Homo sapiens: one gene and its partners. The protein of the gene in region 1 interacts with the protein of each later gene in a pairwise test. Each region holds a gene or a part of one and is shown in the gene's direction. Other genes may lie near its edges.

Region 1 (7,025 bases):
TTTTTTTTGAGACAGAGTTTCACTCTTGTTTCTCAGGCTGGAGTGCAATGGTGCAATCTCGTCCGGCTAATTTTTTGTATTTTTAGTAGAGATGGAGTTTCACCATGTTGTCCAGGCTTTTCTTGAACTCCTGACCTCAGGTGATCCAGCTGCCTTGGCCTCCCAAAGTGTGGGGATTACAGGCGTGAGCCACCGCGCCCGGCCCATAAGTACCATATATTATATAAGATGATATAGTCACAGTGATGAGAGCTTCCCCACCCCTAAGAAACTTGTAGGTGACTAGATAAGCGAAACAATAATTTATTTTATAGAGACAGGGTCTCTGTTTACTAAGCTGGAGTGCAGTAGTGCTATCATATCTCGTTGTAACTTCAAACTCCCGTGCTGAAGTGATTTTCCTGCCTCAGCCTCCTGAGTAGCTAGGCCTATAGGCTCATGCCACCATGCCTGGCAGATTTTTAAGTGTTTTTTTTTTTTTTTGTAGAGATGAGATTTCACTATGATGTCCAGGGTGGTCTCAAACTCCTCAGTGCCTCTCCTGTCTTGGCTTCCCAAAGAGCTCAGATTATAGCTGTGAGTCGTGGCACTTGGCCAATAATTTCTTTTTGACAGTTGCTGCGATATGAGTAATATTAGTAAACGCTAAAGGAATAGGGAAGAGGAATATTGAACCAGGAGTTTCACCTATGGGAAGGCTTTCCATCGTAGAAGGTGTTTCCAGAATGAGAAGTAAAAGCCAGATGAGGAATGTGGTTAAAGATTGCAGTGTATATCCAAGCATGGAGGAAGAAGGGTGCTTGATCTATTTAGAGAACTCTTAAGTGTTTTAGAATGGTAGGAGGTGGGAAGGGAGGGACCACTGAAGTGTTTAGCCCTGTACTAGCTTTATTTTAGTGATGTTTTCTCTCTGTCTGGAATAAATCATTTCTTCCCTTATGCATTGGCTGAGTTATATAAGTAGAACTTAACAGCTGAGCTGTTGAAATGGAGATTATTTATTCAGGTACTGATAACCTTTTGTTTCAAATCATGACTTTGAATCCTATATTCCAGAGGCACTGAAATGTTATTTATTTACCTGTGCATTCAAGAGATAGCTGGCAGCCTAGCAATTTAAGTTACTGTTGTTGTGGTAACTTGAGGGCGATATATAAATCAAACACTGATCCTGTTTTCCAGAAGTTTATACTTTAAATGCATTTGTATATGATTAAAATAAGGTATTAGGTTGGTGAAAGTAGCTGCAGTTTTGACCGTTACTTTTAAGGGTGAAAACAGCAATAACTTTTCTACCATCCTGTACAAAGGGCTGCTGAAGCGTTGTGGGGTCTCAGTGCAAGGAGAGGTCACTTCATCCCTGATGCTTGGGCCACACCTCAGACCAACAGCAGTGCTAAGGCCCAGGCTTCAGATAATTTTGTTTAATTTTTTTTTAAAATTCTCTCCATGATTGGGTAGAGCCAGGGCTGAGAAACATTGACCTGAAGGAATTAGGGGGCTTCATGGAGGAGGTAGTGTTTGTGTTGGGCTTGAGAGGATTTAAGTTTCTCCTGGGCCTTGAAAGGAATTGAAGGATTTAAATGTTTGAATGTGGTGGTAAGATGGCTACTGTAGGTGGAAGATGACTCACCCTTTACCTTGAAAGGATGAAGGAGAAACCCTGATTGAGGTCTAAGAAAAAACAATCATGACCTGCGGAAGGCTTTGGCCAGAGCTGTAGAGTGCATGAGGGTGAGAACGGGGAGATCCCGTGAAAAGGTAATACATCGGCTTTCATATGTTTTAGGCATGAGATGAGCTGAATCCTGATATGATTTGAGTTAGTCTTCCCATGACCTGATGGAAGAGCTGTTATCTCCATTTAAGAAAAGTGAAGCTGCCCAGGTGTGGTGGCTCACATCTGTAATCCCAGCACTGTGGGAGGCTGAGGCAGGAGGATCACTTGAGCTTGGGAGTTTGAGGCCAGCCTGGGTAACATAGCGAGACCCCATCTCAATAAAATAGAATAAAAAAAAGAAAAAAAAATGAAGCTGAGAGTTTATTTAGCCAGGGTCACACAGCTGGAAAGTAGCTAGTGTGGACCTTGGCCTGAGATGTGATCTGTCTAGCTATGATACAACACTGCTTCACAGATAAAGTACCAGCTTCAGGAATTGGAAGGTTATTGATTTTTCTTGGATAACATGGGTACATTTCAGTCATATTTGAATTTTAATTTAGTTGGATTCTCACTTATTTGTAAAGCTAACCGGTTTGTATTGGAAATATTATAAATATTCTGGGAATCTCAAATGTTGATTTTATACTAGCTTTTTAGTTATTTAAGATAAATTTACATTTTATTCTATTAACATCTCTTTGAAAAGACGTAGTGCTTTTTTAGGTTGTCTATTTATGTGTGTATGTGAGACATTTCCTCTTGGGGGATTCTCTGAGACTCACATTTCTGTAGAAGCTTTTTTCAGATATACTTATGAAAATCTGTTCTCTGTTTTGAGAAATCTTGAAAGCTATGATATGTTGCAACTAGACACTCTAGCTTCATTGATTGGAGGCTAAGGGTTCCCGTATTTGTGGGCAGTAACAACAAAATTGACAATTTATTTTGTGTAAAGTATTTCAAATGTCAGTTATTTCTAGAGGTTTTTTTTCTTAAAAAAAAAAAACTCATTAATTCTTTTCATTGTAAAGGAAAGAAACCATCTTTTCATGCTACAAACCCCGACCACCATGAGAATTCTTTTACAGTGTGATTTGTTGTAATCTGTTATAGATCACTTTCATTCTTTCTTTCTTGCTGCATATGAGGGACCAGTATTTTAGGAATAATGTTTTCATATTGTCTGGATATTTTAGGATGATTTGTTAATCAAACTAGCTACAGCTTATTGTAATGATAGCTATTATTTATTTAGAGTTTGTTTTCTCTCTTCTAGGAGCTTTGCCATGAAAAGAACAGTCCAGGCCAGGCGTGGTGGCTCACACCTGTAATCCCAGCACTTTGGGAGGCCCAGGCAGGTGAATCACGAGGTCAGGAGATGGAGACCATCCTGGCTAACACAGTGAAAACCCGTCTCTACTAAAAAAATACAAAAAAAATTAGCCGGATGTGGTGGTGGGTGCCTGTAGTCCCAGCTACTCGAGAGGCTGAGGCAGGAGAATGGCATGAAGTTGGGAGGTGGAGCTTGTAGTGAGCTGAGATCGCACCACTGCACTCCAGCTTGGGAGACACAGCGAGACTGTCTCAAAAAAAAAAAAAAAAAAATCGCCACACTGTCTTCCACAATGGTTGAACTAGTTTACACTCCCACCAACAGTGTAAAAGTATTCCTGTTTCTCCACATCCTCTCCAGCACCTTTTGTTTCCTGACTTTTTAATGATCGCCATTCTAACTGGTGTGAGATGGTATCTCATTGTGGTTTTGATTTGCATTTCTCTGATGGCCAGTGATGATGAGCATTTTTTCATGTGTTTTTTGGCTGCATAAATGTCTTCTTTTGAGAAGTGTCTGTTCATATCCTTCGCCCACTTTTTGATGGGGTTGTTTGATTTTTTTCTTGTAAATTTGTTTAAGTTCTTTGTAGATTCTGGATATTAGCCCTTTGTCAGATGGATAGATTGCAAAAATTTTCTCCCATTCTGTAGGTTGCCTGTTCACTCTGATGGTAGTTTCTTTTGCTGTGCAGAAGCTCTTTAGTTTAATTAGATCCCATTTGTCAATTTTGGCTTTTGTTGCCATTGCTTTTGGTGTTTTAGACACGAAGTCCTTGCCCATGCCTATGTCCTGAATGGTATTGCCTAGGTTTTCTTCTAGGGTTTTTATGGTTTTAGGTCTAACATTTAAGTCTTTAATCCATCTCACATTAATTTTTGTATAAGGTGTAAGGAAGGGATCCAGTTTCAGCTTCTACATATGGCTAGCCAGTTTTCCCAGCACCATTTATTAAATAGGGAATCCTTTCCCCATTTCTTATTTTTGTCAGGTTTGTTAAAGATCAGATGGTTGTAGATGTGTGGTATTATTTCTGAGGGCTCTGTTCTGTTCCGTTGATCTATATCTCTGTTTTGGTAACAGTACCATGCTGTTTTGGTTATTGTAGCCTGGTAGTATAGTTTGAAGTCAGGTAGCGTGATGCCTCTAGCTTTGTTCTTTTTGCTTAGGATTGACTTGGCAATGCGGGCTCTTTTTTGGGTCATATGAACTTTAAAGTAGTTTTTTCCAATTCTGTGAAGAAAGTCATTGGTAGCTTGATGGGGATGGCACTGAATCTATAAATTACCTTGGGCAGTATGGCCATTTTCACGATATTGATTCTTCCTATCCATGAGCATGGAATGTTCTTCCATTTGTTTGTGTCCTCTTTTATTTCATTGAGCAGTGGTTTGTAGTTCTCCTTGAAGAGGTCCTTCACATCCCTTGTAGGTTGGATTCCTAGGTATTAGAACTAGAAATACCATTTCACCCGGCAATCTCATTACTGGGTATATACCCAAAGGATTATAAATTATGCTCTGTAAAGACACATGCACACATGTGTTTATTGCAGCACTGTTCACAATAGCAAAGACTTGGAACCAACCCAAATGTCCATCAATGATAGACTGGATTAAGAAAATGTGGCACATATACACCATGGAATACTATGCAGCCATAAAAACGGATGAGTTCATGCCCTTTGTAGGGACATGGATGAAGCTGGAAACCATCATTCTGAGCAAACTATCGCAAGGACAGAAAACCAAACACCGCATGTTCTCACTCATAGGTGGGAATTGAACAACGAGAACACTTGGACACAGGATGGGGAACATCGCACACCGGGGCCTGTGGTGGGGTTGGGGGAGGGGGGAGGGATAGCATTAGGAGATATACCTAATGCCAGCATGGCACATGTGTACATATGTAACAAACCTGCACCTTGTGCACATGTACCCTAGAACTTAAAGTATAATAAAAAAAAAAATGAAAATAACCAAAAAAAAAAAAAGAGAAAAGAAGAGTCCTTTCATTGCTGTTTAGCAGTATCTCATTTTAGTAATTTTTCTAGTGACATATTTGAAGTTCTGATTGACTTCTTCGAATGAGTGTATTAGCCGCCATCTCTTGTTTGTTCAGGTCAGTAGGTTGTTTACAGAAAACATTTAGAATTTGCAGTGTTGAGTCTGTTTACAAAAAACAGCCTACATTTTGCTAATCACTGGAAAAATACTAGGTCAGTGTCTTAAGATGTGCAATACTGAGATCTGTGATGTTAACTGATCTCTCAGAGGATGGGTCGATACATATCGTTGATAGTATACTGTAGACTGTTATTAACAATAGAAGATATACAGAGAATTCATGATTTCTTTGGTATTATAGTGAATTACATGATTTAATATTTTATAACGTTTTAATGTAAACATTTATTTTCTGAGCACAATTGAAGCACTTCAGCCTGGCAAACTTGTAATCTGTATGTGTAATTGTGAGTTTGAGTTAACTAACAATATTTAAGAGTTATAAAAGCCTGGCTTCTGTGAAATGGATTACAGTAATATTGGCAGAGAGTAAAACAGTTAGTTTCAGTTAATGAAGATGAGTTTTTTGGGAGAATTATCTTTTTTTAAATCAATTCCTGGAATTCTGCAGTGCAAAGGGAAAGTAAAATGAAGCAGTCATGAAATAGAAAAAGCTTAGCAGGCAGCATACTTTCTTTCCTGTTTCTTGACGTTCTGAGATAAGCACATTGTTATTTATTTCAAGTCTTGGAGCACTTTGAGACAAGCACATGTGCCTGGGCATTCATAACATTAAGCCCTGTTAGGAATCCCACTTACACCCTTGGCTTCTGCGTACTGTGAGAGCTGGGCTGGATGATAATTACAGTCAGCTTTCATTTGTAGAGCCCAGGTCTTCAAATAATTTCCAAGTAAACTATCCCAGATTAATACGTTTCAGGACATAAGTGTGGTTCGCTAGAGCTGTCAAGCTGTCTGGATGCCCTTCTGTTAACTTTGTAGAAGAGATTCCACGTGTGTCAAGTTACAGTGTTTGCTGAAATTTTTCTGTTGTCTTGAAAGCTATTTGAAAATGAAATGTTCATTATAGTACTGGTGGTCAGGTATGTTCCTTAGATATATATGAATTAATGTCACCACACTATAGACAGTAATTTTTATATCACCTTCTCTCCAAAAACCTGCAGCACTTTTAGGATGAAGTCTAATTCCTTAACACAGCCTATGAGACCCTGACGACTATGGCGCTTACCCACTTCTCCAGTCCCATGTCATACCTTTTTATTTTTCGCTTGCTGCTTTTCATTCTTTAGTACTCACCTCTTTCCCCTCTACCCTGGGGACCTTTGCAAATGCTGATCCAGCTGCCTGGAGTGCCCTTCCTTCCCTTGCTAATTATTCTTCTGATCTCAGTTTAAGAGATGCTTACTCAAAGCTACCTTCTCTAACTTGAGTACATCTTCCTCTGTTAAGCTCCCTTAGTATGGTGAATTGCTCTTCAGCTTAGAGTGACTGCCATTGCAAGTAACTGAAGTCAAATTGTTTTAAACAAACCTAGTGGCTTTATTGTCTCCTGTGTCTTGAGGGTTCAGAAGCCAGATGGGCTTTAGGGTTGATTGGTTTGAGTGATGTTGCCAAAGATTCAATTTTGTGCTTTTCTCTACTTTGTCTTCTCTAACGTAAATTTTATCGTCTGGCCAGAGTCCTCTCTCTCGGTTATGGGAAACCATCAACAGTTTGGGGGCGCTTGTTTCCAAAACCTTAGAGGAGTGAGAGAGCTTCTGGACCAAGAGTGCTCAGCAGTCCTCTCCGTTCATGTCACTGGCCCTCCTTGTGTCATGTCCTCATCCATTTCTGAACCAATAACTGTGACCAGGGAGAAGATAGGATTCTTTTGGTCTTGAACCAGTTGCCTAGCTCCTAGAGATAAAGGGGAATTATTTTTTGTAAAAGGAACAAAGTTCACTAGAGCAATCTTGCCAGAGTTATATTTTTTTATTTGATTAATTTTTTTGTGATA
Region 2 (7,005 bases), on another chromosome or scaffold:
ACATACAGGTAATGTAAGTGAATGGCAGTCAAGACTGGGGTATAGTGAAGAATATATGCATCATGTAAGAAGAACGGCTGATTGTTTTCATGTGAGAATGCAGGCCTAAGATTGCTAGATCTGAGTCTTCAGGAAAAGCCAAAAGTTCAGAGGTTTATATGATGTCTCATATTGGAACTAATTCCACTTAAGGAAAAAAAAAACCCTACTACTGGGGAACTAATAAAACATAGCAAATTAATTGCATTTGGCCAATGAGCTTCCAATTTTCATCTGCTCTATACGATTAATGTAGAAACACAATTTCTCCCTTCTTTTTATTGTGCTTACCATAAAGAATGTAAGACTAATTAGCCTTTTTCCTCCCCTTAGGATGGTGCGTCCAAGGTTAACCATTTATGTTTGTCAGGAATCACTGCAGTTGAGGGAGCAGCAACAACAGCAGCAGCAACAGCAGCAGAAGCATGAGGATGGAGACTCAAATGGTACTTTCTTCGGTAGGTTGTTCTGGACACACTAGGACAGATATGAAGAAAGGTGAAGAGATAACTTATGGGCATGTGTGATGGGAAACTATCAAACAGCAGATTTAGTATTTGCTAGAAGTAACAATAATCACTAGCATTTATTAAGTTCCTAATACATGGCAGGTGCCATTCTTTTTTTTTTTTTTTGAGACAGAGTCTCACTCAGTTACCCAGGCTGAAGTACAGTGGCACAATCATGACTCATTGCAGCCTTGACCACCTGGGCTCAAGTGATTCTCTCCCCTCAGCCTACCGAGTAGCTAGAACTAAAGCTACTCATTTGCCTAATTGTTTTATTTATTGTAGAGATGGGATCTCCCTATGTTGCCCAGGCTGGTCTTGAACTCCTGGGCTCAAGCGATCTCCCTGCCTCAGCCTCCCAAATTGCTGGGACTATAGGTGTAAACCACTACACCCAGCCAGGTACTATTCTTAACACTTTTTATATGCTTTAATATTTACAACTAATATCTCCTCTTTGCGGAGGATTTTACTGTTATCTCCGGTATTTATGCAAGAAAAATCAGGCCTAGGAATGTTAAATAACTTGCCCTAGGTCACACAGCTGCAAGTGGTTGAGCCAGGATTTGAACTTAGGCAGTGTGATTTCTGAGTCCTTCAGAAAAGTGGGCATTCCTAGTGATCAAGTTACCTGTAAGAGTGGACAAACTTTGTACTGACTGCTGTTGCTCTCTCCCTTTTGCAGTTTACCATGCTATCTATCTAGAAGAACTAACAGCTGTTGAATTGACAGAAAAAATTGCTCAGCTTTTCAGCATTTCCCCTTGCCAGATCAGCCAGATTTACAAGCAGGGGCCAACAGGAATTCATGTGCTCATCAGTGATGAGGTAGATTTTTCAGTACAGTTGAATTACCAGATGATGATTAATTTGTCAGCGCATGGAGCAAGAGCAGTTCTCCTGGGGCAGAGTGTTCTGTTTTCTAGATCAGAGGGTTTCATACTTTTTTGCTTGCTTTCCTCCTAATTTTTTTTTTTTTTGAAACAGTCTCTCTCTGTTGCCCAGGCCGGAGTGCAGTGGCCCAATCTCAGGTCACTGCGACCTCCTCCTCCTGGATTCAAGTGATTCTCCTGTCTCAGCTTCCCGAATAGTGGGAATTACAGGCGTGCGCCACCACGCCTGGCTAATTTTTGTATTTTTAGTAGAGATGGGGTTTTGCCATGTTGGCCAGGTTGGTCTCAAACTCCTGGCCTCAAGTGATCCACCCGCCTCGGCCTCCCAAAGTGGTGGGATTCCAGATGTGAGCCACTGCGCCTGGTCCTAAAATATTTTAAAAACCACATATTCCCATGCACATTTTTAGGTTGACTTAAAATTTTTTGTTAAAGTTTAAATAGTTGTAAAAGATGTCATTTCTGGGCATATATAATGACATTTTTAAGTGAAATGGTTACATCATTATTCTAATTGCATCCCATGTAACCTTAATACAAAAATGATTTAATACCACCACCATCCATTAAAAAAAAATACATGATTGTGCTTTTCTTTAACAGTTAGAATTCTTATACTATTCCTCTGTTTCCTTGAACTCTTATTTTCATTTACTTCCCCCGGTGAATTTTATCTTACTGTAACTTTTTTTTTTTGAGACAGAGTCTCACTCTGTCGCCCAGGCTGTTGTGCGGTGGTGTGATCTCGGCTCACTGCAACCCCGCCTCCTAGGTTCAAGCAATTCTCCTGCCTCAGCCTCCCAAGTAGCTGGTATTACAGGCACCCACCACCATGCCTGGCTAATTTTTGTATTTTTAGTAGAGGCTGGGTTTCACCATGTGGCCAGTCTGGTCTCGAACTCCTGGCCTCAAGTGATCAACCCGCCTCAGCCTCCCGAAGTGCTGGGATTACAGATGTGAACCACCACGCCTGGCCATCTTACCATAACATATTTTTATGCACAAACATCTTTTATTGATTATCCTACTATATTTGTTTGAAATAAAGTTTTTAAATAAAAATTTAAAAATTATTATAATGGAATTATCATAATTATACAATTGATTAAAATAATGTAAATATGCTACATGTTTTAATAAGTAATTATTAAAGATTAAGAAGGCTGCCCAGGCGCAATGGCTCATGCCTGTAAACCCAGCACTTTGGGAGGCTGAGACGGGTGGATCACAAGGTCAGAAGTTCAAGACCATCGTGTCCAAGATGGTGAAACCCCATCTCTACTAAAAATACAAAAATTAGCTGGGCATGATGGCAGGTGCCTATAATCCCAGCTACTTGGGAGGCTGAGGCAGAGAACTGCTTGAACCCGAGAGGCAGAGGTTGCGGTGAGCCAAGATTGCGCCACCGCACTCCAGCCTAGGCGACAGAGCGAGACTTCATCCAAAAAAAGAAAAAAAGAAGGCCAGGCACAGTGGCTCACACCTGTAATCCCAGCACTTTGGGAGGCCGAGGCAAGCAGATCACCTGAGGTCAGGAGTTTGACCAACATAGAGAAACCCTGTCTCTACTAAAATACAAAATTAGCCGGGTGTGGTGGCACGTGCCTATAATCCCACCTACTCAGGAGGCTGAGGCAGGAGAATCCCTTGAACCCAGGAGGCGGAGGTTGCGTGAGCCGAGATGGGGGCATTGCGCTCCAGCCTGGGCAACAAGAGCAAAACTCTGTCTCAGAAAAAAAAAAAAAAATTAAGAAAAAATTATTACAGGTATATCTATGAATGAGTTCGATGAAATTGTTTCGTTCCCTACCTGTACCCTTGCACATAATTATTTCCTTTGTAGCTGAATACTGCCTATTGATTGCTAGAATGACACAGGATTTCAGCATCAATTCCATTCTGTTTTTTTCCTCTAGATATAAATGCTGAGGGACTTGATTCCCATAAATTGATAGGAATGGATGGAATTTTGTAATGACAATGTCATTAGATTATACTTCAGAATTATATACCAGAAATTACATAGTGATATTACCAAAAAATCATTTTGAATCCTCTGTCTTACGACAATTTGTGATTAGGTTACTCTTTAATTCTGGTGAAAGGAAAGAGTTAGAAACCATGTGGCTCATAAAAGGGTCTATTGCTCAGTTATTAGCGTTCACCTTCGCCATTCCACTTTGCCACCTGAAGCTTTCACATCATGGGCCACCTTATTAGGATCCTGGGAGGGTGAAACTCATGCCTTTATCTTGGGAGAAGGGAGTTTATCCCTGGGAGAAGGGAGTTTGAGAAGGGAAAGTGGGGAAGGAAAATTAAAGAGGTTTTAGGAAAGAGCACATATGGGAGTTGAAGACACGGAAGTCAGTTCTCCTGTATGCACATATTTGTGTCCGTGTGCTCCTTGGAGAGTCTTGGGGTTAACCCAGGGAAATGCATACCAGGCTTTAAAACAACTCTTCCAATCTGCTTAGTTTTTTAATATTTAAAAACCAAATGGGAGGGGAGGAAAAAACTTTTATGATCCTAGATATTCAAGAAATACATTATTTGTGACCTGTAAAGCCTCCCATATAAATCCCTCTGGATGTGGGGTAGTCCTTAGGGACACAGGAATATAAAGGGGTTGTTTTTCATTTAAATAATCACAAATTTTCTTGCATTTTTCAGATGATACAGAACTTTCAGGAAGAAGCATGTTTTATTCTGGACACAATGAAAGGTAATAGTAAGACAAACATCTTTCTCTAAGCAGTTTAACAGCTTTACTACTACTAGGCAAAGTACATACTTCTTTGAGGAGAGATAGGAAAAGTAACCATATTTGGGTAAAGAAAGTGACAATATTAGAGATTGTTCCTTTTTTTAAGTTGGCTTTTTTTTTTTTTTTTTTTTTTGAAACAGAGTCTCGATCTGTTGCCCAGGCTGGAGTGCAGTGGCATGATCTCGGCTCACTACAACCTTCGCTTCCCAAGTTCAAGTGATTCTCCTCCCTCTGCCTCCCAAGTAGCTGGGATTACAGGCACGTGCCACCATGTCTGGCTAATTTTTGTATTTTTAGTAGAGATGGGTTTCACCTTGTTGGCCAGGCTGGTCTCGAACTCCTGACCTCAAGCGATCCACCCACCTTGGCCTCCCAAAGTGCTGGGATTACAGACATGAGCCACTGTGCCTGGCCCAGCTTTTTGCCATTCTCTTCCATCTTCCATTACAGATGAGGAAATTGAGGCATGTTGTTTTTATAATGCATTTTTTTTGAGACAGAATTTCGCTCTTGTTGCCCAAGCTGGAGTCCAGTGGCGTGATCTCAGCTCACTGCAACCTCCACCTCCCTTTTCTCCCCTTCTCACGAGAATCTTACCATACTTTTTTTCTCCTGCTGTGTTTTAGAGGTGACTAAAGATGATTCTCTCTCTCTCTTTTTTTTAACAGCAGAAACCAATGATAGCTATCATATCATACTGAAGTAGGAGTGCGGCGTTTCGTGCCCAGTGGCTGCTCCTTCCTTCACCTCTGAAAACGGCCCTCTTGAAGGGGGATATGAATGGAGATTTGAAGGTCTGCAAGAACCTGACTCGTCTGACTGTGTGTGGAGGAGTCCAGGCCATGGAGGCAGAATCCTGGCCCTCTGTGTTGGCCCAAGCTCTTGTGGTACACACAGATTACTGCCCAATATGCAGTTCTGCAGCTGTTTTAGTTAAATTTCTGGACCTTGTTGTTGTTAAATATCAGTAGAAACTCTACATAATTTAGAGTGTATGTAGGGCATAATGATGATGGGAATTGTGTGATGTTTAACAGGAAGATCTTAAATTTTGTGATATGGAGCCCTGTAATTTTTTTCTTATATAAAAATGGGTATCTATATTCATAAGACTAGGTCTTCAATCTCTTTGTACTGGTCTCAAATGTACTGGTATCTCTGCTTTTTGCCACAGTTTGTCCCTGAAAACTTTATCAGTGAGGAGAAATACAGAATTTTCCTTTTGGTTCCCCTGTAATACCACAACTAATAGTATTTTCAGCTAACATTTATTGACCAGGCAGTGTGATAAATTTTTTGAATGACCATCTTGTTTAACCCCCTAATCACACTATCTGAAGTAGGTGCTATAGTGACCCCCAACCGAAGATGAGGAAATGGAGACACACAGTGGCTAAGTAGCTTGCTAGGTGCCAGGAGCTGGCAGGCAGTGATGCTGAAATCCAAACCAGGCAATCTGGCCCTCCTTATTCACCCTCTCATACCACCAGTGCTACCCATTATAACCTGTGTTCACTTCGCTTATTACTGTGGCCCTTCTGGTGACTACAACATAACACTGAGTATGAACTGAGGAATTAACCACTGAAAGAGACAAAGCACACCTAAATAATGATGAACAAATCAAGACCTACAAGAAATGAACACATAGATGCTTTTTAAGTGTCATTAGTTATCGGAATCAAAGAATTTGAGGTGGTGACAACTGGGGATTATCTGTAACTCCCCAAATTTACTGTTCTTGAATGACATTCTCAAACTATTTATTAATGAGTTAGTCTCATCCCTGCTTTCTGTTTCCTCTCTCTGCATCTTCTCTTGGCATAGGAAGTTATTTTACTCATGCTATGTTTTTTAATAGAAGCTTTACAAAAAAAGATGCATTCCCTTCCTGTTCACACTCTTACCATGTTTTTGTTCTTCCTTAAGAATGATTGTGTGTGTGTGTGTGTGTGTGTGTAAGTGTGTAAGTGTAACATCATGGGTTTTCTTTCTTCACTTGTAAAGTTTTATCTAGAAATACTTTTACAGGTTATGTTGAGGTACACAAAGATAATGTTCTAAGATTGTGTATTGGATTTGGATTTGTGTGTGTGTGTGTGTGTGTGTGTGTTTAAAGCATTTGATAAGGTTTAAATGTTTTTTATACAGAGATTTTTGTTCATTAAACTCAATCTGCATCATGGTCTAATTTCTCTTGGTTTGAAACAAATTGAAAACTTTGAAACCAAAAAATTAAGTCAATGACTTGTTTAAAACTGACCTGAGCAACTTGTTATATTACACCAAAATGCTTCTTAGTGAATGATTACCAGGTGTCTCCATTTTGAGGAGGAGACGTATCTGGTTGTCTTATATTCCTAGTACTGGTTCTCAACCTCAGTTCTTTCCTCAGCAGGCTGCTATTGGTTTGGATTTTTTTTTTTTTTTTTTTTTTTTTTTTTATGTCTAGGTGTTTGGGTAGGAAAGTTGGACTAGATGCCTTTTTCTTTTTTTTTTTTTTTAATATAGAAATGAGTCTGGGCACCGTGGCTTATGCCTGTAATCCCAACAATTTGGGAGGCTGAGGCAAGCAGATCACTTGAGGCCTGGAGATTAAGACCAGCCTGGCCAACATGGTGAAACCCTGTCTCTACTAAAAATACAAAATTAGCTGGGCGTGGTGGCACACACCTGTAATCCCAGCTACTTGGGAGTCTAAGACATGAGAATTGCTTAAACCTGGGAGGTGGGGTTGCAATGAGTTGAGATCAGGCTGCTGCACTCCAGGCTGGGTGACAGAGCAAGACTGTCTCAAAAA
Region 3 (7,365 bases), on another chromosome or scaffold:
CATGCCCGGCTAATTTTGTATTTTTAGCAGAGATGGGGGTTTCTCCATGTTGGTCAGGCTGGTCTTGAACTCGCGACCTCGGGTGATCCGCCTGCCTAGGCCTCCCAAAGTGCTGGGATTACAGGCGTAAGCCACCACACCCGGCACTTTTTCTTAATTTTTTTCAATATATCTAAGCTACATGGTTTGTCTGAGAGTTATTTTAAATTGTGGCAATCTCCAAAAAAAGTACGATGTATTTTTTGAAGAAAATCTGCATAAATGGACCTGTGTAGTTCAAATCCAAGTTGTTCAAGGGTTAACTAGTAATTTATCATTATTAGCATTATTAAATTTTGGGAACTTTCACACCAATTCTCAATCTGATATACTAGCATACCATAGAGTTGGTAACTCTTCTAATTGGCAGTGAAATGTTCAGAGGCATTTTTTTTCTCACACTGGTCAGCTCCAAACAGCCCATTACCAATTTATTATTGATTCACAGAATCTCAGGTTATAAGAGATCTTAGAGGTTAATTTCTGGCATTGGATATAGCAGAGGAAGAAATAAGGTGTCTCATAAGGCAAACTCTTCCCAGAATAATTTCAGTTTGCAGAGTTTCAAGATGGGTCCTTATGGAGTTCTTTTTCTCTTCTTCCATTAAACTGCTTAGATTTCTTTCTGTTCATTGCATTTCAGCGAAGTTTTCTTTTAGAGATTTAAGGGACTTTGGCAGACAGGCCAAACACTAGTGGGGCCTCATTATCAAGTAATATGTTGCAAAGTATAAGGCAGCGTAAAACTGAAAACTGCCTGGTTATCTGCCATATGGCATTTTACAGAGGAAGAGTCCAGGGGCAAATCTTGCAGTTCTGTTCTTCGCATACAAAAAGAAAACACTCATGCAAGACTTGGATTTTTGCTTCTTTACAATGTTAGGAATGGTTTTCTATCAACCACTACTAGTCTATCAGTTCCTCCTTCCTTTGGCTACTGAGACATTTGTAATAGAATTGACTGTCATAACCATCAGAGCATAAGGTCATGAAATATGACAGATTCTTTGCTGTTGCTATTGGTGCTTATCTGCAAGCTTCCTTCTTGGCCAACAAGGCTCTATCCAAGGAAGCTAATGAGATCGTTAAAGTAGATCCCAAAGGAGGAAGCAGAATATGTCTATTCATCAATGGAAGTGGGACTTCTTTGATATCATTTAGGTTTAAGAATCACACTTTTTGAGAATGGACTTATAATGGAACTGTGATATAACTGCAAAAGCTATGGATAGTAAGAGGAATGAGTCTACATCCATACATTTGATTTAACAGATGAATGAGGGTTCAACTCATTTTTTAAAAAAAAAACAGGGCTAGGTTTTTCCCTTTAAAATATATATGCATTGAAATGAAAGAATATGCCCTTTGAGTAAGTTTAAATGCTGGCCCAGGGATTAGTTTACAAAGCAGAAAAGTGGTTTGCCCACTTCCTACCTCATTTTCCAATTTTCTCTCATGTTCAATGCAGTGAATGTTACATTTGTGTGTGCCAACCAGGGCATGCTCACAGAAGGAAAGAGTGCTAGTGGAAAGAAAAAGAGAAAGACACCATGGAGAAAAAAATATTAATGATCAATTTTTCCACCCCAAGAAAAAAATCTCCAGGCTCCAGAAAACCGGGTGCAGTGATTCCTCTCCATTTCATTCAGAATTTGAAGCCCAGAGACAACAAGGCTTTGAAAGAGAAGCATTTTGTGCTGCCTTTGTAGTCCTAAACAATTAACAGCTCCAGAGTCCCAGAGAGAAACCCGTACGGCATCCTTCAAACTTGTTACAAAGTACCTTATGTAGTGGCAACCCTTCTGTGGATCACGGTGAGACAGGTCCTTCCTCCTACCTGAAATGCCCACAATTCTGAATTAAAAAAAAAAAAAGAGAGATTGACTGTCCCTTATATGTGTATTGAGATGTGGACCTTGACTGAAGTCTTATCCCATCTGAAATTTACCATCTTCAAGAGGGGTAATCCAATGTCCCTATGCATAGATGCAGATTGTCAGAGTTAACAGTGTTGTAATAGATTGTGAGCTTTCGGACTCCATGGCTAGGGAAGCAGGAAGAGATGTGTCTACAGGGACTGGCTAGCAGGGAGACTGTACCAAAACTCTAAAGCACAAGCATAGTGCTTATGTTTTCCTCTTAAAAATAATAATAATAGGGCCGGGAGCGGTGGCTCACGCCTGTAATCCTAGAACTTTGGGAGGCCGAGGCGGGCGGATCACAAGGTCAGGAGATCGAGACCATCCTGGCTAACACAGTGAAACCCCGTCTCTACTGAAAATACAAAAAAATTAGCCAGGCCTGGTGGCGGGCGCCTGTAGTCCCAGCTGCTCGGGAGGCTGAGGCAGGAGAATGGCGTGAACCCGGGAGGCGGAGCTTGCGGTGAGCCGAGATCGCGCCACTGCACTCCAGCCTGGGCAACAGAGCGACACTCCGTCTCAAAAAAATAAATAAATAAATAATAATAATAATAATAATAATAATAGGACGGGCATGGTGGATCATGCCTGTAATCCCAGCACTTTGCGAGGCCAAGGCAGGCAGAGCATTTGAGATCAGGAGTTCGAGACCAGCCAACCCTGTCTCTACTAAAAATACAAAAATTAGCCAGCCTGTAATCCCAGCTACTCGGGGAGGCTGAGGCAGGAGAATCGCTTGAATCCGGGAGGCGAAGGCTGCAGTGAGCCAAGATCACACCACTGCACTCCAGCCTGGGCGACAGAGCGAGACTCTGTCTCAAAAATACATACATACATACATACATACATACATACATACATACATACATACATACCTTCAATAATAAACCACATTTACTCTACAGTATTCAGAGATTCTGAATTCCACTAATTTTTTGTGCCTCCCCCTTCCCCTTTCTCCAGTGTACAGCACAATTCATTGCACATGCTAGGTGCTCAAAACAGATGTGTTGAATCAGTCAAATAAATAAACGAATAAAATACATACACTTCTGCACATGTTTTAGTTCTTCTGATCTTCTATTTCTTCAGCTATAATGTGGGGATGATGTTATTTTGTGGGTTTGTTTTCAAGATTAAATAATATAGCATACCTTATACAATATGTAAAATGTCAAATGCTATGCTCAAAGGTACTAGTGGAATTTTAAGTCTGCAGGTATCTTTCAGATTTTAAAAAATCAGTACCAAAAGCTATAGGTGGGATGAGTTAATTAATCTCAAACACATTTAAATTAACAGGAAGAAAGAAATAGGGCATGGTAGGAGGAGAGAAAGGAGGACAGTTAGGGATATAGTGAATACTTTTAAAGTCAGTTGAATTATTTCATACGGGATAATTTTTCTTGTCACAGTAAATCACCCTGTGCCCCACCCCCGCTCCAGGAAGGCAGGGAGGTTGTAAAGGAGAAGCGAGAAGAGGGTTAATTTGAGCTCCCTCCTGCCTGCTGCAGTCACAGTGCATGATAGAGTAATGAAGGTGACGCCGCCACATATCTCATCTGAACTTCCTCTGTGGTCTTTTTCATATTAAAGTCTTTCACTGTTACAGGACTGTGCTTGGAAAAGTTGGGAAACTTTTCCCTTGGTGGAGAAAAAGAAGCCCTCGTCAGACGCAATCCAACAAATGAATGGAGTTATTTCCTTGGCCCAACATGTCCATCCACTAGCACACCAAATATTCATAGAAACATCTTTCCTCACTTCCAAGGCCGGAATTGTACTCTCCCGTGGCGTTGCCTAGTATCGCAGATTTCGAAAGTGAGCAGGCAACAGACTTGGCTTTCGAGCCAATTCTAGGAGTCGATGCGACTTACTGTCCTGTGTGGTAGCTTCTCCCGGGAGCAGAAAGTGTAAAATAAACAGCTGCTGAAAAGCATGAAGAATTAACGAAGTGAAAATCTCGAGTTATTTGTTCGGCAATTGACACGTAAGTGACCTCCTTAAATGCCTAGTTATTTAAGGACGTTTAGAACGAGGATGAATGAATCTTCAGGGCGGTTAATTCGCACCGGCGTGTAAATTTCTTTAGTCTTTCGGGAAGTGGCGGTAAATTCATACAAATCCAGCAGGGAGGGAAGAGAAGGGAGTAAAACCACGATCTCGGAGCGCTCTTCTCAGTCCTTTGGAAAGACTTGCCTTTACTGCCCGGAACCCTGGAGGTTACAGCTGGGCGAACCCGGAGGCGCTAGGACCTCGTCAGCGCCTGGCTGCGGCCGCTTTCAAGAGGGCGGAGGAGGGAGAGGAGGAGGGCGATGTGGGAAAGGAGGGGTGTTAAGGGGGGCGGGGGAAGTCATTTATGCAGAGCAGGAGCTGCTGCCATTGCCACTCAGAATCCTCGCGCGCTGCTCGGAGCCGGAGGGAGCGCTGGGAGCGAGCAAGCGAGCGTTTGGAGCCCGGGCCAGCAGAGGGGGCGCCCGGTCGCTGCCTGTACCGCTCCCGCTGGTCATCTCCGCCGCGCTCGGGGGCCCCGGGAGGAGCGAGACCGAGTCGGAGAGTCCGGGAGCCAAGCCGGGCGAAACCCAACTGCGGAGGACGCCCGCCCCACTCAGCCTCCTCCTGCGTCCGAGCCGGGGAGCATCGCCGAGCGCCCCACGGGCCGGAGAGCTGGGAGCACAGGTCCCGGCAGCCCCAGGGATGGTCTAGGAGCCGGCGTAAGGCTCGCTGCTCTGCTCCCTGCCGGGGCTAGCCGCCTCCTGCCGATCGCCCGGGGCTGCGAGCTGCGGCGGCCCGGGGCTGCTCGCCGGGCGGCGCAGGCCGGAGAAGTTAGTTGTGCGCGCCCTTAGTGCGCGGAACCAGCCAGCGAGCGAGGGAGCAGCGAGGCGCCGGGACCATGGGCTGGGGGAGCCGCTGCTGCTGCCCGGGACGTTTGGACCTGCTGTGCGTGCTGGCGCTGCTCGGGGGCTGCCTGCTCCCCGTGTGTCGGACGCGCGTCTACACCAACCACTGGGCAGTCAAAATCGCCGGGGGCTTCCCGGAGGCCAACCGTATCGCCAGCAAGTACGGATTCATCAACATAGGACAGGTAACGAACTACAGGCTAGCCCAGCCCTCGGCCCTGAAGCCACTGGGGGCTTCTTGTCCCCTCTGCGTGGAACCCCCTCCCCCTCTTCCAGATGTGCTCTAGCAGCTGTTGCCCTAACTCTTGGGCGATGCTCTGTCTCCTGCGCGCGCGCGCGTACGCACACACACACACACACACACACACACACACACCCCAGAGTTGCCGGGTCCGTGTTTTGTTTACTTGTCTTTTCCAAGCCACGCGGGACTGGTAGGGTCTCGGGAAAAATCCAGAGTGCCCCCGTGGTGGCTTCAGAGACGGCTGGACCTTTTGACCTGAAAAGTCGAGTAGCACTAGTAATCTGAGGCAGTCTCAGAGAGGGTGATCGTGGGGAGAGGGGGAAATTAGGTCTTTTGGGGGATAGGGGGTGAGCGCGCCTCTGATGCCTGCGGGGAAGGGAAAGCCTTTCCTGCTCGGACCTGAATTTAGCCCAGAAAGAAGTTTCCTCTTGGGCGAGAGAACCTCTGGCGCTGGAGACTCCGGAGGCGCGGGGACTGGAGCTGGAAGGGAGGAGAAAGGAGGGGGAGGGAAGAGGGGGCCGGCCCCGGTGTGAGTGCAGATTTAGGGGAGACCTCTAGGCTTTCTCGCCTTAAGCGAGGTCCGCGTGGGGGCTCCCGGAAGGGAGTTGTAGTGGGGAGGTGGGAAACTTCCGAAACCGGCTGGCTGGGTTCCGCTCCGGGAAAACGAGGAGTCTTACCCCGGGACGGAAGGTGCCGGGCCGGGAGGTTGCGCCGTGGGGCGAGAGTTGGGCAGGCAGCAGGGGCGCGGGGTTTTTGTGGGGTGCCGCTCTCGGGCTTTTGGCAGAGCTCTCCTGCTAGGGAGAAATGCCCATAAACTAAGGTGATGCTATGAGGATGATTGGAAGCGTAACAGATTTGGAAGTACTCCGGGTTCAGTGGTCTTGGCTTTCTGGTTCTCTTCCCCCGACACCCCTGCGAGAAATGGGGGTAGAGAGGGCTATGAAAGTGGGTCCCAGAAAGTACCCCCCTCCACATACACACCGCAAGCATCTTTGGGGTTGGCCGGAGGGGCGGGCCCTGGCTGGGCTCAGGCGAGAATCCGCTGGAATGGGAGGTGAGGATGATGGATGGCGCCTTTCCAGCAGGCGCGCTTTGGGGACTGCCCGGGGTGCACGCACCCTGCGTGCTCTGCCAGGGGGAAGGGAGAGGGAGGTGCTGGCTGGTGCCGGCGGAGTGGGAGAGTACGGACAGTTTCTGAGGCCATTGCGTTCCACGCCCAGGAACCCGGGGACACCCCCCGCCCCTCCTCCCCGCCGCCTGGGGGATGCGGCACCTGGAGAGGAGGCAGAGCTGCTGTCGCCGCGTTTAGAAGGAGCTGGGGAGTGCGGGGAGTGTTCAGAGGAGCAAGAGCACAAGATCTTGCTCTTTGCCCGCCCAGAGGGAGGACATATTCCAGAGAAGCCAGCCCTGTGGAGAACTGAGACTAGGGCAAGGGGCACGGTTTGTATTCCCTCCTGCCCCTGGAACTAAGGAAGTAAGGGAAGCCAGCCAGATTTTGTTGCTTGAGTGACTGTTATCTGCGGAAGATTTCCATTCTAAAGGCTCGTTGGGATTCTACTGGCTTCTTTTTCTCTGGAAGAAAACACTGAGTCCGTTCAGGTCTTTTTACATGAACTTAAAGTTGGGCACTGCCTATGCCCTGGGAATGGAACTGGGGAGGCTAGCACTGAAAGTAGCTAGTACTATTAATCTTTCCAGAGATTCATCTCGGGTTCTGCTAACATTGAACATCTCACACATGACCAGGCATTTTTGGAGGAATAAATTCTTGAACATACCCTTCTTTCTTAATCTCAAAACAACCTTGTTTGGTGAATATTACCTCACACACAGGAGATGAGGAAACCGAGACCAGCTAGACAGTGGCAAAGCAGTGATTCAGACCTGCTACTCTGACTGTTGCAGGCCCAGTCCCCCATGGATCCTGCCTTTTAGGGAACCCTTCCATGCCATGATGAAGGAGGAAGGAAGTAAAATCTCCATTTCCTTGAATTCTGATTTAATGGCTCAGTAGGCTGGAAGCAAATATCTGGTCTCAGTTCACAGATATTTAGTTCAAACGCACCTAGCTTTCTTGACTTTAACAAGGGCAGAAACAGCTGTTACCTTTCTGAATTAATTGAGCAGAACTGGTATATGACAGAATCTGGCATAGCGAGATGGGAGAAATTGTCACCAAATCCACTTTTGAACAAGCAAACATTGCAATGTCCTGCAACCTCTGCTTGACTATTTACAAAAGGCCTTATAGTGAAGATTCATG
Region 4 (7,025 bases), on another chromosome or scaffold:
ACTCTGATTGTCACTTACACCTAGTCCCTCCTTAGATACCTGCCAGCTCTAGAGTTACAGCCAACTCTTTCTTCTCCTTCTTCTTGGTGTGGCCCAGGCATGTGGAGGAGGTGCTAAGCTCATTGCATCTGTCTGGATTCCCCCCATGGCTCTAGTTTGCAGGCCTTCCCTGGAAATCAACTTTGTCCCACCATTCTTTGGGTCACATCCTAAGAGGCCTTGGGCACTCTCTCCACCTCCTAGGCTTTCTGAGCTCTGGGCAGGGGGACACATGAGCTTCTTCCTGTGTTTCAGATGCAGATGGCAGAGCTATTGGTGTCCCATGGAGCTAGTCTCAGTGCAAGGACATCCATGGATGAGATGCCAATAGGTAAGTCCAGCACAATAGCTGGTGTGCACAAATAGGCAGTTATCAATGTTTTGATGGGTAGAGGGAGAAATAGATAAATATATGGTTGTATAGATTGATGGATTGGTGTCTAGATAGATAGATGGATTAATTAATGGATGGTAGATGAATGGACGGATGGACAGATTAATGGATAGATGGATAAATGGATGAATGGATGGTTGAGGTGGTAGATGGGTAGATATTATGAGGTCTGGTTGAATGGATGGGTGGGTGGGTGGATGGATGGATGGATGGATGGATGGATGGATGGATAGACAGAAAAATAAGTGGATGAGTGGGTAAAGGATGAATCTATGAATACATGGCTCAGTCAGCAATAGGTAGATAGATGGATGAAGGGGTTAGGTAGAATAGATGGGAGTATGTAGCTTTATTAGCATCTTTGCATAATTTATTGCTTGGGCTATGTGGGGTACCTGCTTGGGGACTCTTCTTGGAAACTATCAAAGAGCAACATGAATCCCTCGGTCATAGCTGGGAAGCTTAGGAATTGTGACTGTGCCCAGAACCTGGGTTTCCCATTCTTATAATCCTCTTATAAACACACTCACTCAACTTTGGCTGGCATTGTTTTCTTGCCTCCCTGCATGCCCTGAAAGATGCTTGGAGTTTTCAGTGGGTTGGGGTGGCAGCTCCTCTGGTCTGGAGCACCCTCTTGCGCCACAGGTCCTGGCCCCGTCCCCCACAACAGACTCCTCTGCCCCTTCAGACCTGTGCGAGGAGGAAGAGTTCAAGGTCCTGCTGCTGGAGCTAAAACACAAGCATGATGTGATCATGAAGTCACAGCTGAGGCACAAGTCATCCTTGAGCCGGAGGACCTCCAGCGCAGGCAGCCGTGGGTGAGTCCGGGGCAGGGCAGCCAGGAGTCCCTGTGTGTGCTCCTGCCTGTGGTGCCTGGGTGCAGCCTCTAGGACCCACTTTGTCCTCTCAGGAAGGTGGTGCGGCGAGCCAGCCTGTCGGACAGGACCAACCTGTATAGGAAGGAGTATGAGGGAGAGGCCATCCTGTGGCAGCGGAGTGCAGCTGAGGATCAGCGGACCTCCACCTACAACGGGGACATCAGGGAGACCAGGACAGACCAAGAGAATAAGGACCCTGTGAGTGGCCTCACGCCCTGCCCTAGTGTCAGCCACTGCAATGGGAGGAGAACAGGGCCCAGCCTGGCCTTGCCTCTTCAACTGAGAGCCTTCAGAGGGAAGTAGCCAGGCACTGCCCTTAAACTAGCATATCCAGTCTGATGATGATGGCTACTGTAGTTAAACCAGCAGATTCAGTCTGATGGTGGTGGCTGCTGTAGTTAAGGAGGTGATCGGGGAGTGTGTTAGAGGCTGAGCTGGGTGCTTTGGCACACAGGTAGGTCTCCTAATTGACAGGGGGTGAGTGTCCGCTATGCGCCTAGCTGTGCTCCAGCACACCTAGCAGTGGACTTCCAAGGAGAGAGCTTCAGTAGGGCAGTCACCCAGGAGCTGAGGGTGCTACAACTTCTTTTTCAGGAAATATAACAAGATATTGAGAATTGTGTTTATCAGAACATGTTTTTTGAAAAATGGAGTAGGATCCTAGTAGGACCTCTGAGAAGCCTGCTCCTGTAGCAGCCAATGGTCCTTTAAGCTTTAAGCTGCTTTCATTTCTGATGGCTGCTTTAAGAAATTATCACAAACTGGATGGCTTAACATGGTGGAAATTTATTCTCTCTCAGTTCTGAAGGCCAGAAGTCTAAAATCCAGGTAACACCAGCATTGGTTCCCTCTGGGGGCTCTCAAGGGGATTCTGTTCCACGCCTCTGCGAGCTTCTGGTGGCTCAGGCGTTCTTTGGCTCTTGCTAGCAATGATTCTAGTCTCTGCTTCTATCTCCACATGACCTTTTTCTTCGTGTGTGTGTGTCTGTTTTCTTTTTTTATTTTTATTTTATTGGTTTTTTTTGAGACAGGGTCTTGCTCTGTCACTCAGGCTGGAGTGCAGTGGCATGATTATAGATCACTGAAGACTCCAACTCATGGGCTTAAGCGATCCTCCCACCTCAGCCTCCCAAGTAGCTGGGACTATAGGCGGGGGCCATCACGACTGGCTAATTTTCAAATTTCTTGTAGAGATGAGGTCTTGCTGTGTTGCCCAGGCTGGCCTCAAACTTAGCCTCAAGCAATCCTCCCACCTTGGCTTCCCAAAGTACTGAGATTACAGGTTCGAGCCACTGTACCTAGCCTGTTTTTTCCTCTTATGAGGACACCAGTCATTGGATTGGAGCCCATGCCAATCCAGTATGACCTAATCTTAATTTAATTTATTACACCTGCAAATACCTATTTCTAGATAAAGTCACATTCAGAGATTCCAGGTAGACATGAATTTTTGAGGGACACTACTTAACCCAGAACCAACACACTCACTCAGCATGGCTGCTTTCTTGCTGAGTGGAGTGAACAAGTTTGGGGCTGGAGTGGAATTGCTGAGGATGAGGGAGAAGTTAACTGTACCAGAAGTGGTCTGCCATTTTCGTTCTTCCACTACACCACGAACAGATGAAAACATGCCTAGAGAGTTTAGCCTTGGTGGGATGAAATTGATTAGCTACCGAGCATGCCCACGTGTCTCAGAGGGACCCTGCTTCCCAGCACGAACAGTGGGGTCACCTACTGCCTGTCTCACCAGGAGGTGTGAAGGTGCCTGCCCAAGGGGAGGCCACATCAAAGCCACCAGCTGGTGATGGAGAGGGCACGTAGGGAAGATTTGTTCTGCCTGGCCCCTTAGTCTGAGGATTGGTGAGAAAAGAGATGTAGATCAGTATCAAATCACATTTCAGATGTCTCCCAGCTGTGCTTTATTTATTTTTCCTTTGTGATTGTGGTGTAACTTAAGTATGGTAAAGCAGACAAATCTTTTTTTATTTTTTTATTTTTTTATGATATGGAGCCTCGCTCTGTTACCCAGGCTGGAGTGCAGTGGTGTGATTTCAGCTCACTGCAACCTGTGCTCCCGGGTTCAAGCGATTCTCTTGCCTCAGCCTCCTGAGTAGTTGGGATTACTAGTGCCCGCCACGACGCCTGGTGGATTTTTGTATTTTTAGTAGAGATGGGGTTTCACCATGTTGGCCAGGCTGGTGTTGAAGTTCTGACCTCAAGCAATCCTTACCCACTTGGACCTCCCAAAGTGCTGGGCTTACAGGTGTGAGCCACCATGCCTGGCCAAGTAGACAAATCTTAAATGAGATTTTCAACAACCTTTTACAAATGTACACACTCAGATGAATTCATAGAGCATTTTCATCATCCATGTTCTCTCTCCGTCCTTTCCCCCACTCCAAATGTAGTCACTATTTAACTTTGAGTTCTAAAGATTAATTTTGTATATGCATATGAATGACCCTGCAGTTTCTTTCGTGTCTGGCTTTTTTTACATCTGTGAGAGTCACCCACGTTGTGGCATATAGCAGTAGTTTTTTTTTGTTTTTTTTTTTTGAGACAGGAGTTCACTCTGTTGCCTGGGCTGGAGTGCAGTGGTGTGATCCTAGCTCACTGCAGCCTTGACCTCTTGGGATCAAGCGATCCTCCCACCTCAGCCTCTTGGGTAGCTGGGACTATAGGCATGCACCACCATGCCTGGCTAATTAAAAAAAATTTTTGGCTGGGTGCCGTGGCTCATGCCTGTAATCCCAGCACTTTGGGAGGCCGAGGTGGGTGGATCACAAGGTCAAGAGATCGAGACCATCCTAGCCACATGGTGAAACCCCATCTCTACTAAAAATACAAAAATTAGCTGGGCATGGTGGCACGCGTCTGTAGTCCCAGCTACTCAGGAGGCTGAGGCAGGAAAATCACTTGAACCCGGGAGGTGGAGGTTGCAGTAAGCCAAGATCGAGCCACTGCACTCCAGCCTGGGGACAGAGCGAGACTCCGTCTCAAAACAAAACAAAACAAAACAAAACAAAATTTTTTAGAGATGGAATCTTGCTATGTTGCCCAGGCTGGTCTCAAACTCCTGGGCTCAAATGATCCTCTTGCCTCAGTCTCCCAAAGTGCTGGGATTATAGGCACGAGCCACTGTACCTGGCCTCATTCTTGTTTTTTTTTTCTTTTTCTTTTTTTTTTTTTGAGATGGAGTCTTGCTCTGTCCCCCAGGCTGGAGTGCATTGGCGCGATCTCGGCTCACTGCAACCTCCATCTCCCGGGTTCATGCCGTTCTCCTGCCTCAGCCTCCCTAGTAGCTGGGACTATAGGTGCCCACCATCACGCCCAGCTAATTTTTTGTATTTTCAGTAGAGACGGGGTTTCACCGTGTTAGCCAGGATGGTCTCGATCTCCTGACCTCGTGATCCACCCGCCTCAGTCTCCCAAAGTGCTGGGATTACAGGCGTGAGCCACCACGCCTGGCCGCCTCATTCTTTTTTATTGCTTTCTAGAATTCGATTGTTTGAATATTAAAATTTACATATCCATGCTCCTTTTTTTTTTTTTTTAAATTGAGACAGAGTCTCGCTTTGTCACCCAAGCTAGAGTGCAGTGGCGTGCTCTTGGCTCACTACAACCTCTGCCTCCCAGGATCAAGCGATTCTCCTGCCTCAGCCTCCTGAGTAGCTGGGATTACAGGTGCGTGCCACCACGCCCGGCTAATTTTTCTATTTTTAGTAGAGATGGGGTTTCGCCATATTGGCCAGGCTGGTCTTGAATTCCTGACCTCAAACGATCCACCCTCCTCGGCCTCCCAAAGTGTTGGTATTACAGGGGTCAGCCACTGCTCCTGGCCTCCATTCTCCTTTTGGTGGACATTTGGGTTTCTTGTTTCTGGCTCCTGTGAATAAAGCTCCTATAAACATTTTTGTACATGTCTTTTGGTGGACATAAGCACTATTTTGTGTTGGGAAAACACCCAGGAAAGCAGCTGGAGTCACGGGTAGGCATATGTTTAGCTTTAGTGGATACTACCAAGCAGTTTTCCAAGGTGCCTTGTACCTGTCTGCTTTCCCATGGCAGAGTGTTTCTTGCCAACCCTTGGTATAGTCAGTCTTTTTTTTTTTTTTTTTTTTGATACAGAGTTCCGCTCTTGTTGCCTAGCCTGGAGTGCAATGGCGCCATCTCGGCTCACTGCAATCTCCGCCTCCCGGGTTCAAGTGATTCTCCTGTCTCAGCCTCCTGAGTAGCTGAGATTACAGGCACCTGCCACCATGCCCAGCTAATTTTTGTGTTTTAGTAGAGATGGGGTTTCACCATGTTAAGGTGGGAATTCTCAAAGCATGGTCCCTGTACCAGCAACATCAGCATCACCTGGGAACTTGTTAGAAATGCAGACTTTGGCTGGGCACAGTGGATCACAAATCCTGTAATCCCAAAACTGAGGGAGGCTGAGGTGGGAGGATCTTCTGAGCCTAGGAGTTACTGGACAACATGGCAAGACCGTATCTCTACCCCCCACCAAAAAAAAAAAAAAAAAAAACAATTAGGTGGGTGTGATGGTGTGTACCTGTAGTCTTAGGTCTTGTGAGGCTGAGGCAGGAGGATTGCTTGAGTCGAGGAATTCAATGCTGCAGTGAGCTATGATAGCACCACTGAACTCCAGCCTGGGTGACAGAGTGAGGCGTGGTCTCTAAAAAAAAAATAAAAATAAATAAATGTAGATTCTCAGGACCCACTCCAGATGTGGCGATACTGCTGCACACAAGAATTTCAGAACCACTTATTTGAGGAATAATTTGTTCAGCCTGACCCCCAAATCACATTTCTTCCAAGGCTGTGCCCTGTTAGCCTTCAGGGATGACTTTGGTTCACTGTTTTTTGTTTTTGTTTTTTTCCTCTGAGACAAGGTCTCACTCTGTTGCCCAGGCTAGACTGGAGTGCAGTGGCGCAAACTTCGTTCACTATAGCCTCTGCCTCCCAGATTCAAGCAATTCTCCCACCTCAGCCTCCTGATTAGCTGGGACTACAGGCACCCGCCACCATGCCCAGCTAATTTTTGTGTTTTTTGGTAGAGATGGGGTTTCCCCATGTTGGCCAGGCTGGTCTCGAACTCCTGACCTTAAGTGATCCACCTGCCTTCGCTTCCCAGAGTGCTGGGATTACAGACATGAGCCACTGTGCCCCTTGTTTTTTAATCTGATGTTTAAGTAGCAGTACAGACAAACTAAATCAGAATCTCAGGAGTTGGGACCTCAGCATTGTATATGTTTGTCATTGGTGTTTTTTTTTAATTTTTTTTAGATGGAATCTTGCTCTGTTGCCAGGCTGGAGTGCAGTGGCTCAATCTTGGCTCACTGCAACCTCCGCCTCCCAGGTTCAAGTGATTTTCCTGCCTTAGCCTCCTGAGTAGCTGGAACTACAGGCGCACGCCACCATGCCCAGCTAATTTTTGTATTTTTAGTAGAGACGGGGTTTCACCATGCTGGCCAGGATGGTCTCAATCCCTTGACCTTGTGATCCACCCGCCTCGACCTCCCAAAGTGCTGGGATTACGGGCGTGAGCCACCATGCCTGGCCATGTCGTTGTTTTTTAAAGCTAAAGAGAGACTGTTTTTGAAGTGATTGCAGCAGTAAGTAGAATGCATCGACCACAGAATTGGCAAGATCTTGGAGGTCAAGGAGAAAGGAGTTCGTTTCCTAGGGAGGAAGACAGAGGCTGCAAGGAC

Evidence for each region.
Region 2: the proteins of FARS2 (region 1) and TFCP2 interact in binary tests that used the Homo sapiens proteins (3 or more experiments, as listed by UniProt).
Region 3: the proteins of FARS2 (region 1) and PCSK5 interact in binary tests that used the Homo sapiens proteins (3 or more experiments, as listed by UniProt).
Region 4: the proteins of FARS2 (region 1) and PPP1R16B interact in binary tests that used the Homo sapiens proteins (3 or more experiments, as listed by UniProt).

Annotation. Positions count from the first base shown.
Region 1 is NC_000006.12:5,264,503-5,271,527, forward strand, and holds part of FARS2 (phenylalanine--tRNA ligase, mitochondrial), read left to right. Parts: intron 1-487; exon of another isoform or gene 488-576; intron 577-2,939; exon of another isoform or gene 2,940-3,021; intron 3,022-7,025. UniProt on the Homo sapiens protein: Is responsible for the charging of tRNA(Phe) with phenylalanine in mitochondrial translation.
Region 2 is NC_000012.12:51,093,147-51,100,151, reverse strand, and holds the end of TFCP2 (alpha-globin transcription factor CP2), read left to right. Parts: intron 1-372; coding exon 373-497; intron 498-1,233; coding exon 1,234-1,376; intron 1,377-4,111; coding exon 4,112-4,163; intron 4,164-4,873; coding exon 4,874-4,911; 3' UTR 4,912-6,496; downstream 6,497-7,005.
Region 3 is NC_000009.12:75,886,331-75,893,695, forward strand, and holds the start of PCSK5 (proprotein convertase subtilisin/kexin type 5 isoform 3 precursor), read left to right. Parts: upstream 1-4,342; 5' UTR 4,343-4,851; coding exon 4,852-5,043; intron 5,044-7,365. UniProt on the Homo sapiens protein: Serine endoprotease that processes various proproteins by cleavage at paired basic amino acids, recognizing the RXXX[KR]R consensus motif. Likely functions in the constitutive and regulated secretory pathways.
Region 4 is NC_000020.11:38,906,685-38,913,709, forward strand, and holds part of PPP1R16B (protein phosphatase 1 regulatory inhibitor subunit 16B isoform 1 precursor), read left to right. Parts: intron 1-294; coding exon 295-370; intron 371-1,121; coding exon 1,122-1,251; intron 1,252-1,343; coding exon 1,344-1,509; intron 1,510-7,025. UniProt on the Homo sapiens protein: Regulator of protein phosphatase 1 (PP1) that acts as a positive regulator of pulmonary endothelial cell (EC) barrier function. Involved in the regulation of the PI3K/AKT signaling pathway, angiogenesis and endothelial cell proliferation.